Regions from separate parts of the Homo sapiens genome. Here region 2 is linked to region 1. Evidence: fine-mapped expression QTL. A gene starts in region 1. The other region holds a variant in brackets. All regions are shown on one strand. Distances are between the middles of the regions. Region 1 holds the start of GPR171 (G protein-coupled receptor 171). Region 2 overlaps MED12L (mediator complex subunit 12L).

What was found.
Region 2: its variant is fine-mapped to the expression of GPR171 in whole blood (INTERVAL, PIP 0.91).

The regions. Positions count from the first base shown.
Region 1 is chr3:151,200,448-151,205,839 of GRCh38, forward strand. GPR171 (G protein-coupled receptor 171) reads right to left here and starts at 2,769. Exons shown (of 3, transcript NM_013308.4): 1 at 2,657-2,769; 2 at 462-550. The region is part of intron 16 of MED12L (mediator complex subunit 12L); the gene reads left to right.
Region 2 is chr3:151,224,346-151,229,676 of GRCh38, forward strand. The region is part of intron 16 of MED12L (mediator complex subunit 12L); the gene reads left to right. All of the region lies in intron 1 of P2RY14 (purinergic receptor P2Y14), which reads right to left. Among named protein-coding and RNA genes, the nearest start is that of GPR171, 24 kb to the left of the region's middle. The variant C/T (reference allele first, on the strand shown) is at 2,401.

The sequences.
Region 1 (5,392 bases):
TACAACCTTTTTAAAAGAAGCAAATATAAGTTATAGTGACCAACATTGAAGGCCAGATCAGCTACTCTGTAAGTGCCTTTTAATAAGAGAATAAAACTTCTGACATCTTTCTAAATTTTAATTTCCCCAATTAATTAATGATCCTTTGTGTGCATTTGTAATGAAACAATGTATGCAAACAGATGAATAAGGCAGATGTACACAAAGCTTTCTAAATTCAAGTGCTGCTTAAAGGCTACATGCCCTTTCTCTTTCCCTACCTGAGTTAGCACGTTAGAGTCCATGAATAATGTCATTCTTTACCAAACTCGATGAAAATAATTAAGCAGTTGGTTTGTATCTGGCACTATGCCAAATACTTTACATGTACTTATTTAACTTCTTATCATTTCCATAAGCTAGGTGTTGTTATTGTCCCTGCTTTACAGATGAGGAAATTGAGGCATAATGGGGTTACTTACCCAAGGTTGTGTAGCTGGTAAGATATAAAGCCAGGATTCCAGCTCAGTCAGTCTGATCTCAGAATCACATTCAAAACCACTCCAAAACACTGCCTCAGTAACAATAGTAAGATGATGATAGAAATGATAATGATTATTATTATATCTGCCAGTCTTTACTAAGGGCTTACTGTGTGGGCAGGAACTATGTTCTAAACAATTTTTATGTAATAAAGCTGAAATAAACTATTTTTAACTTTTTACCAAAATACTAAGAATATAAGTTTAGGCTTTTCGTATATTTTGCTGTTCTATGCATACAACCACGTGCACACACTCTCTCTCTCTCTCTCTCTCTCACACGCACATTTAAAAACAAAACCTAGGCCCATCCAATAAGTTTAAACCAACTTTGCTCTCAAAGCTTCCATAACCTAGTTTCTCTCTACCATCTCTACTTACATCCCAGATTAAGATTGGGATTGGTGGGGTCTCTATTATTCTGTGTACAGTTCCTTCCTGCCTTTATACTTTTGCATGTGATAGAAATTTTGGAGTCATAGGATTTTAAGGATGGATGGAAACTTTATCGATAGCCTGTAGTCTAATCCCCAAGTCAGTTGAGGAGATTGAGGGCTGGCACTGGTGTGTTCCTCAAGCTTTCACAGCATGTTCAGGCAGGACTAAGATCTGTTCTTATTGGTCATCTTCTAAGCGCTCTGCATTTATCCTTACTATTCCTGAATCCTGCTTATTCCAGAGCTTTAAGGAAGCTCCTCACATCTGAAAGCTACTCCAGGCTTTACCGATGTCCTTGGCGACCATGAATTTGGATAGTTACCATTTGTACCTTGGAATTTTGAACATACTTTTCTTCTTTATGTGAAAAACTAGTATTCGTGTGCATTGATATAGTGTCACATCTTTGCTTATTGTTACTTTCTAAGGCCCTAGGATTTTGGCTTACGCACTTCTATTTCAAATATTACATAATAATGGTAACATAATGTGTTTCTTTAAGTGCTCCATTGCTTGCACAACTATAAAATAAGTCTGTTGTATCAATGAGACGTATATGGTAAAGAGAAGAATTAGAGTAATTTATTTTGATTAATTTTCTCTGTAGCTAGAACTGACGATATATACCGTACATGAATAATTTATCTGAAATGAATAATCATTCAGTAATTCTCAAGAATCATGGAGCATCTCACATTTCTCACATTTGTGTTTGTGAACTTTTGTCTAAATTGCAGTGAGAAACAAATCTGTTTATTTAAAATTTTTGCTTATGTAAATTAGAGGTTAAAATATTGTATAATAACATCCTGTGTTCTGTGTCACAAGTTTGAGAACTAAGTGCTTAATAAATATTTTACCAGACAGTTACTTACCAGTGAAAATGTGAGATACTCAGAAGTAGTGCAGCAACAACAATACAAGATTTTAACTGTCTCTGTAGTTTGGATAGAGTGCCCATTGCTTAGAAAATAAATAAACTGGCTGGGCACAGTGGCTCACGCCTGTAATCCCAGCACTTTGGGAGGCTGAGGCGGGTGGATCACTTGAGGTCAAGAGTTCGAGACCAGCCTGGCCAACATGGTGAAATCCTGTCTCTACTAAAAATACAAAAATTAGCCAACGCGGTGGCGGGCACCTGTAATCCCAGCTACTCGGGAGGCTGAGGCAGGAGAATTGTTTGAACCCGGGATGTGGAGGTTGAAGTGAGCTGAGATCGCACCACTGCACTCCAGCCTGGGTGAAAAAGCGAGACTCCTCAAAAACAAAACAAAACAAAAACAAAATAAAAGCTTATTAGATTTTCTATGGGAATCACAGTGGAATCTTCTTGAAATCACCTATTGTAATGTTTGTAGAGGAAAGTCATCTTAAGGCCTGTTGTTCCCTGTTGTGAAGATCTACAACATGGCCTCTATCCACCCAGTTATAAGATTGAGTTACTGAATAGTTATGCTCGCTCAGGTATTCAGTCTGGTGTCAATTATCCTGTCTTTTGGAGACAGATGAATGGGTTCATCAGATATAAGAAAATTATAGTGTCATTCACAGCTAGGACCTATTTAGAGTTTAAAAATTGATGCTTTTTTTTTATACAGCTTGGCTTTTTCTACTTATAAGCCTTAAATACTGAAAAATCACAATTTTGTTTTCCACGGAAAAGCATTTGAATATATTAAGTGTTTAAAAAGACATACCTGGGGCTATCTTCTGTGAGCCTCAGCAAGCCTTGCTGCAAGTCTTCAGAGAAGCATGAGCTGTTTGGTTAGCCGCAGCAGTAGCAACCCCATTGCAGGCTGCTGGCTTTACTAAAAATTTCCTTTCCTTTTTGTGTGGTTTTAAAATGTTGCATATTGACGTAGATGAAACTGTGGTTTGCAAGTAGTTTAACTTTATGAAAGTCTCCTAAAGAAGTTTTTTTAATGTATACAATTTCATGTATGCTTTCTTAAGCAATTTATTTGTCATATTTTTTAGAGAAAAGATCTTCATTTAGTACCTAGCCTTTTTTTTTTTTTAAAGTATCCAAGGTATGTTTTGTGTCATAATGATTTCAAAGAATATCACTCTTCATGCCTTGATGGGGATTAATAATTAAAGATATAAGGTGTTTAAGCAAATATTTTTTCAGTATATATAGTAACACAGCATTTCAAAGTTAAAATTTAAAAAATAGTTGCAGTTTTTATTCCTGCTGAGACACCTATTATTAAAAAAAGAAGTAAACAAAAAGATGTGTTTTACAGAGTCAGCTAATGTATACATTTTATTTATCTTATTTTATGTTCATTATAGAAAAATCTGGAAATAGAAATAAAAAAGGAACATCATTATGCAGAGAGATAATTACTGTTAATATTTTTGGTACATAAGTTTTAAATTTTTTCTATGCTTATGTATTTCCACTTAGATGTTATTCATACTATTTTATAGTTTATAATTTTTCATTGAAGAATATATTATATATTCAATTTATGAGATTAGACTTGTAATAAGTATTTGTCTGTTTGACTCAAACAGCCTGATGAATTGGAATAGTATTTAGTAATTAATAGATTGTGTGTAAAGGAACCCTACAGTGTGTATTTAAGTTGTTTGGTTAAATGTTCATTGTGTCTGTGGCAGAACTAACTGAATGTTTGAAAGAAGCCTAGCATGCTGGGGGACCTAACAAACATATTTTCAAGAGTTCTGAATTTTCTGGTTCAAAGTTGATGTGTTAATGCAAAGCCATTGCCTGGTTATTTAGGGTCTGGTTTCTTCTAATGCTTCATTGGCTTGGTAGGTGCTTTGGTTTCTTTTAATAATACTTGGTCAGTTTTCTGGATAAGAAAAAAGAAGATACCTTTCCAGGATCTAAAATTAATCTCTTGGTATTAGTTTTTAAAAAGAAAAATGTCTCAAAAGATGAAATGAGAAGTATCTAGCTAGGGAGAATTTAGGGAAAGTCTAAGGAGACTTTTGAAAAAAATGTAAAGATGCTTATGATGATATTGGTCACGTCTCAGGTATTCTGACATTCTCCCAAATTCATATAATTATTATTTTTGCCAGTGAAGACCATAAATTATAAACTAGGAGGGAAAAAGCAAATGTTTCTCAAACATTTTATGTTAAGAACCACTGTGAACTTCATCATCATAGTGCTAGGAAAGGATCTTTCTTTTAAGATATGTATGCTTCAACATTGTACAGGACTCACTGAAGAACATACTTGTAGAAAAGATATATTTGCAGACAAGTAAGTGAGAAGTGATCAGGGTTTACATCCACTGGAGGGTAGAGGAGATGAAAGGGAGAGAATTTAGAGATGAGTGGAGTTGACTGCAAACAGTGGTGAATGATTTTACCATGGCATGGAGAAAAACTGGGATGAAAGATTTTTGACAGTTTCTGTTTTGCTTTTTTTAGTTAGGTCTCTTTATATGTTTACTTCCTCGGTTCACTTTAAGGTTGTAGACACAATTGAAAAGTACAAACAATTGTACTTAAAAATCTACCCAGACCACAGTTTCTGTGTCTGGATTGCCAAATGTGAAAGCACTGAAGTGCCCTTGTTCTCAGAGTTCTATTTAATTTTTAGAATAGTGAGAATTAATCTTTTAATAGATGAATCATATTCCTCCTTCTGAGAATGAGCTTAGGCAACCTGGCTTTGTGTGGAAGTTTATTCACAGTGGAAATACATGTAGTTTTCATTTTTTAATACTAGTTTCATTTGATTTTCTATAAGCCACTTTTTTCTATCTGTTTCACTGAGGACAAGTGTTTGTGACTGTACTTAGTGTTCCGGGAAGTTGCATGTCATCACTAATACACACCCAAGCGGGAAGAAGTGAGGTGAAGTTATTTTTCCCTTACCTTGGTCATGGCAGTACTTTTTGTTAAAGAAATAATCTATTCATTACTTATGAATATTTCATGGATATTTTGTATGTGTAAAATAAAAATTAAAGCTAAATTGTCCACCAAGTTATGAATTGAGAAAGAAAATATTTTCTGTGGTCAACTCTCCTATCCATACAAAACGTGCTTTTGATTTTATTGAACACAAATACCAAACAACGGTATTTCAGTAGAAATACTTGCTTTGAATATTTAGCGTTTTTAAAATGTGCTTTTTCGGCATAGCATGGAAGCCATTTGGAACTAATGAGGAAGGGGAAAGCAAATGTTGGGGTCGGTGGTCACTGCCACAGCCGGGCACAGGTCTGAGGACTTGTTTTTGTTAAAACAAGCCATGAGATACAGGAGATTCTGCCTCTTACAGATGGGGAAACTGTGGTGCAGAGAAATTAAGGCCCACTCAAGCCTGCACAGTTAGACCCTAGCGTCCCAGCTCTTAGTTATGCTTCTTACAATGAAATTGCTGGGGACAGTGATTACAATGGAGGCCATCAGGTCAATCCGGTCCCCCTTCCCATTTAGTATTT
Region 2 (5,331 bases), 24 kb after region 1:
AATAGAAAATAGTATAGATGTATGTAATCATTTATACATTTTTAAACTTACTGAAGCCATTTTCTTGCTGCTTTAATCTCTCATGCCTTAATGTTTAACACTTTTTTTTTTTTTGGTGTCAATGTGATCGCCTATGCGGTTTTCATAGTATTTATGTGTCGTGTATTTATAGTTGTGTTATTACATTTTATGTTACTAAAATAATTTACAAATAACTGTCTCATCTGTGTTCTGCATTCCTGTGGCACTCTTGTCCGTGCCCTCTCTAGGCTCAGTCAAGGAGAATCTCACTTTCTTCTTCACCCAGAAGAAGGAATCCTCCTCCCACCCCCTATCTTTTGTCATCACCCAGAGCATTTAAAGTTTGACACTCACCACACTTCTCAGAAGCTGTCAGGGACCTAATTTCTAAGCCTGTTGTCTTTTTCTCAGTTATCCTATTTCCTGACCCTCTTTGCAGCATTTGATATCATTGATTTCCCCTTATTGAAATCTGCTGTTTATATAGTGTAACCTTTGCCTCCTGTGTACCCCTGATATTTCTTCCTTTGCCAAGGCCGTTTGTTCATTTGCTCACTAAAGCCATCAGAACATGCTTATTACATTTTATGTTACTAAAATAACTTACAGCGTTTTACATCTTTAAAATATTTTATATTATTTACTAGTGTTATTTAATTCTCTCTGTCATCAGCCTCCTAGCTTTTCTTACCCAAGCAGAGCTGGATATTTTAGAACTTCTTTCACCCTGCCTATTGGGCTTGCCTTTCTGCCCCAGCACTGTGACTCCTTAGGGCTGGGTAAACAATGTCCTATGTTTCTAAGTCATAGACCTGTCCAGGGTGCCCTCGACTTCACAGAAGTTGCTGTTCTCTCTCTGTAATTGGCTACACTCCCCTTATTTCTCAGAAATCCTTCTTCTGCTTAGCTCCTGTGTTAGTCTATTGTCTGCTGCTATAACAATACTACGTATTGAGTCATTTATAAAGAAAGGAAATTAATTTGGCTCATGGTTCTGGATTCTCTGAAGCTCAAGATGGAGGGGATGCATCTGGTGAGGCCTTCCTGCTGCATCATGGTGGAAGGGCAAGTGAGCATGTGAGACCAAGAGAAAAAGAGGGCCAACTTCTGCAGTAATACCATTAATTTGCTCACGAGGCCTTTGCTATCATGATCTAATCATCTCTCAAAGGTACCACCTCTTAATGCCGTCACAATGGCAAATCAATTTCAAATGAATTTTGAAACGGACACTCAAACCGTAGCAGCTTTCTGTCAGATCCTATCGGTAGCTGTCTCATCCGTGTTCTGCATTCCTGTGGCACTCTTGTCCGTGCCCTGTCTAGGCTCAGTCAAGGAGAATCTCACTTTCTCCTTCACCCAGAAGAAGGAACTCTCCCACCCCCTATCTTTTTTCATTACCCACAGCATTTGATGTTTGACACTCACCACACTTCTCAGAAGCTGTCAGGGACCTAATTTCTAAGTCTGTTGTCTTTTTCTCAGTTATTCTATTTCCTGACCTCTTTGCTTGCAGTTTTTGATATCATTGATTTCCCCTTGTTGAAATCTGCTGTTTATAAAGTACATTGTAACCTTTGGCTCCTGTGTACCCCTGATATTTCTTCCTTTGCCAAGGCCTTTTGTTCATTTGCTCACTATAAAGCCGTCAGAACATGCTGCCATGCCCTATGGAAACACATCAGGGAACTCTCAGGAAGATTCCAGTCTAGGGGGAGGCTGAACAGAGGGACACTTCAAGGTATGACATGGGGTCATCATTGAAGGAGGAAGCACAGGAACACAGTGAGCACGTATCTAGTTTCAGAAATGGTGGCATCAGGGCAGCCTTCCTGGAGCATGTGATAGTGAAGATTGACAAATGAGTTGGCTTTAGCTAGGCAAAGAAGAAGGAAGGAGTTTTGGGGTGAGAGAGCTATAGGAACAGGCATCAAGACTGACACGAGAGGCTGTCACAGTGGGGGAAAATGGATGGCCTAAGCTCTTGGGTAACATGATGGAATCTTGCCAATGAGTAAACGTTTACGTTACAAATGAGGACAGTGATGCTTAAAATGGTTAAGTGATTCATCAAAGGGCACCTAACACATAGCCAGACAGTATTCAAACTAATGTCTGATTGATTCCAAGCCAGGGCTCCCCTGCTCCTGAAAGAATGTGGGGGCAGCATGTTTTATATGAATGTGATCCTTTACACAGGCCCTTCAACATTTTGCTGGAGTCGCATCTTGAGAAGTCAGCCAGTGTTTTTTTTTCAAGAAAGGAATGTGCATGTGTGTATGTTTGAGAGTATATATATTATTTTTGTTTTTGATCTGAGTTTTAAGGTTTTGCATGAGGTGGATGCCTTCAGTTTCTTCAGTTATCTTCCAGATACTG[C/T]GGCATAGAGAACCTCCTTTTGATTTGCCAGTTTCTAAAAGTATTTAAAATGAGTTTCTGATTTTTTGACTCAGTTTTCTATCTCCTGCGTTGATATCCAAAGAGAGATACAGAGTCGGACTATCATGAATGGTGATTACAACAGGTAACGTTAACCTATAAATGGTGGAAACTCTTCTGCAGGGAGAAACCCAGATCTGCTGCATGTGGTTTGGATGCCACACGCAGATCCCCTGGGGCCCCTGGCACAAGGAGAGCTCTGCTTGCTGCTGTTTGTCACCTTCAGCCAGTTTTCTCTGGCAGGAGATGTGAGCTCAAGATCAGGTCACTTGATCCTAACTCCTGCTGCTGTGACCCATCGACTTTACCTTCAGTTAGAATCCAGGTCAGTGACCAACATGTGTTAATGTAACTTAAAATTGGCTGAATGGTGTGGCCACATACTTTCATTGAGGAGCTGTGCTAAGTTTTCACATTAGAAATATCTAAATATTCTTCTTAGGCTGAATTGCAGATACCCAAGAACTTCCTCCTCCACCAAAGCATAAATTCGGCCCTCTCTTGATTCCCTCTTGATCTTCGTATTCACAGTCTTTACAACCCATAAAGATAAAAGAAATCTGAATTTCTGCTACAAACAGATCCAACTCTTGATTATGTGTGAGAATGGTAAGGGGGGACGGATTAGGTTGGATTTATAAACTGATAACGTCCAAACATAGTCTTTACTTTGTATTCTAATCGCTTCCCTCAAAACACTTTTGGCATAGCTTGTGGCAGACTGCAAGTCTAGCATATTGGCATGTCTAAGAACTCCAGCCTGTCTTCACTTTGTGATTATGCAAATGGATCATGGGAGCTGTCAGTGGAGGGTGAGGTGTGGCATAGGCACCTCATGACCTCCAATGGATACATAGTCATGCAGTCTTCCCGAATGGCAAACTGGGGGCCAGGAAAATGGCCACCCACTGTTAGCCTTTACTCTAGGGACTGCATCTTGGTAGTCAGGATGGACCTGTAATTTTTTGCCTATAATGATTGGAATAGTCCAGGGTTTCTCAGCCTTGGTACTGTTAACTGTTTTTTTCGGTTTCAGTTCTTTGTGGGTAGGCTGTCTTGTGTATTGTTGGGTGTTTAGCCGCATCCCTGGCCTGTATCCACTAGGTGGCAGTAGAACGCCATGGTTTGTGCAACCAGCCACGTCCCCACACATTTCTAAATTTTCTTGAGAACCACTGGAATGACCCCTTAATGGTAGGTATGTTTCAGATGATTTTGATACAGGAAGAGAATTTAGCTTTCTTGTTGGGGTCAGACCTTAACTGTAATTGAATAACTCATCAGCAGTAAGTAATCTGTATGCTAAGGTCTAGGAATGTGAAGTGTGCTTTATTTACTGCTCTGTTGGAATAGTGGACAGAGGACAGACAGTGCAGCATAATGATTACATGCATGCTTGTGGGATACAGTGGGCCTTGGCTACATGTATGGCGCTAGAATATTGCGATAATTATTAACTGCCTTTGTGTATCAGTTTTTACATGTCTAAAATGAGGGGAGAAGTAGTAGCTACCTCAGCTACATCTAGGGTTCCTGTTCCCATAAGAATCAAATACCTGGTGTGAGGCAGGCTGTGACTCAGTGGGAACATTGCGCGTACAGGGAGTGACTCAGCTGATAACAGAATAAACTATCAGGCTCCTGACAGTTTCCCCTCTTCTTTAAGTTGATTTAAGTTGACGCTCTTCTACACTGAAATTCAGGGCTGCAGGAGGCACAGTAGACCCTTTGCAGAGTGCTCTGAGCTTCCTCCAGTATGTGGCCCAGCAGTGCTTGAACAAGGGACAAATTGGGAGAGGTTTTGCTTCTGATGATCCCTCTATTCTAGTCACAGGAAGTGGCACTCAACAACAGAGTGTATGTATGAAGTCCAGAGTGTTTCAGTTCTAATTTACCAGTCCCTACACAATGCTAATCTTTCATGAGAGTGGCACAAAGCTCTGCATCACTCCTGGCTTCAGGGTTTTGGGAACCAATTCTTTTTTCTCCTGGAACTAGGTTGAGCTGCCTGAATTACTGAATTTTTTCCAGCCTGTTCTTCTGCAGCATTGTTTTGGAATATGTGGTCCTATTCCCTGGGGCCAGGCAAGGAAATGAATCCATGACCTCTTTTCGCCTCACTGAGATGGTATTTGCATTTCTCAGGCAAGCAGTACTCAGATCTGCAGATCATGGGGCTGTTAGACCATTAGTGGTTATCCTTTGCTGTGAAGATGAAGACAAATTTCCATGTGTGAGAAAACAACAGCTTTAACTGCTTAGCTGAATATCAACCACTTGTGTGTTTGTTCAAGATTCAGGCTTATATAGCCAAAGGAAAAGAATATAAATATCCAGAATTTTAAGTGGGAGTAGAAATACTGTACAGAAGTGATTCCCATATACTCTCTAACCCAAAGTGTTGTATGTTTCCTCCCTGTTTTGTGTATTAATCCCTGTTAGAGGGTTCTTTGATTTTAATAAAACATACTGTGGTAATAACTTATAAATTCAGCAATTCTTTTTTTTTTTTTTTTTTTTGAGATGGAGTCTTGCTCTGTTGCTCAGGCTGGAGGGCAGTTTCGTGATCTCCGCTCACTGCAACCTCGCCTCCCGGGTTCAAGCGATTCTCCTGCGTCAGCCTCCCGAGTAGCTGGGACTACAGGCTCGTGCCACCATGCCCGGCTAATTTTTTTTTTTTTTTTTTTTTTTGAGACGGAGTCTCACTTTGTCGCCCAGGCTGGAGTGCAGTGGCACGATCTTGGCTCACTGCAAGATCCGCCTCCCGGGTTCATGCCATTTTCCTGCCTCAGCCTCCCTAGTAGCTGGGACTACAGGCGCCCACCACCATGCCTGGCTTATTTTTGTATTTTTAGTAGAGATGGGGTTTCA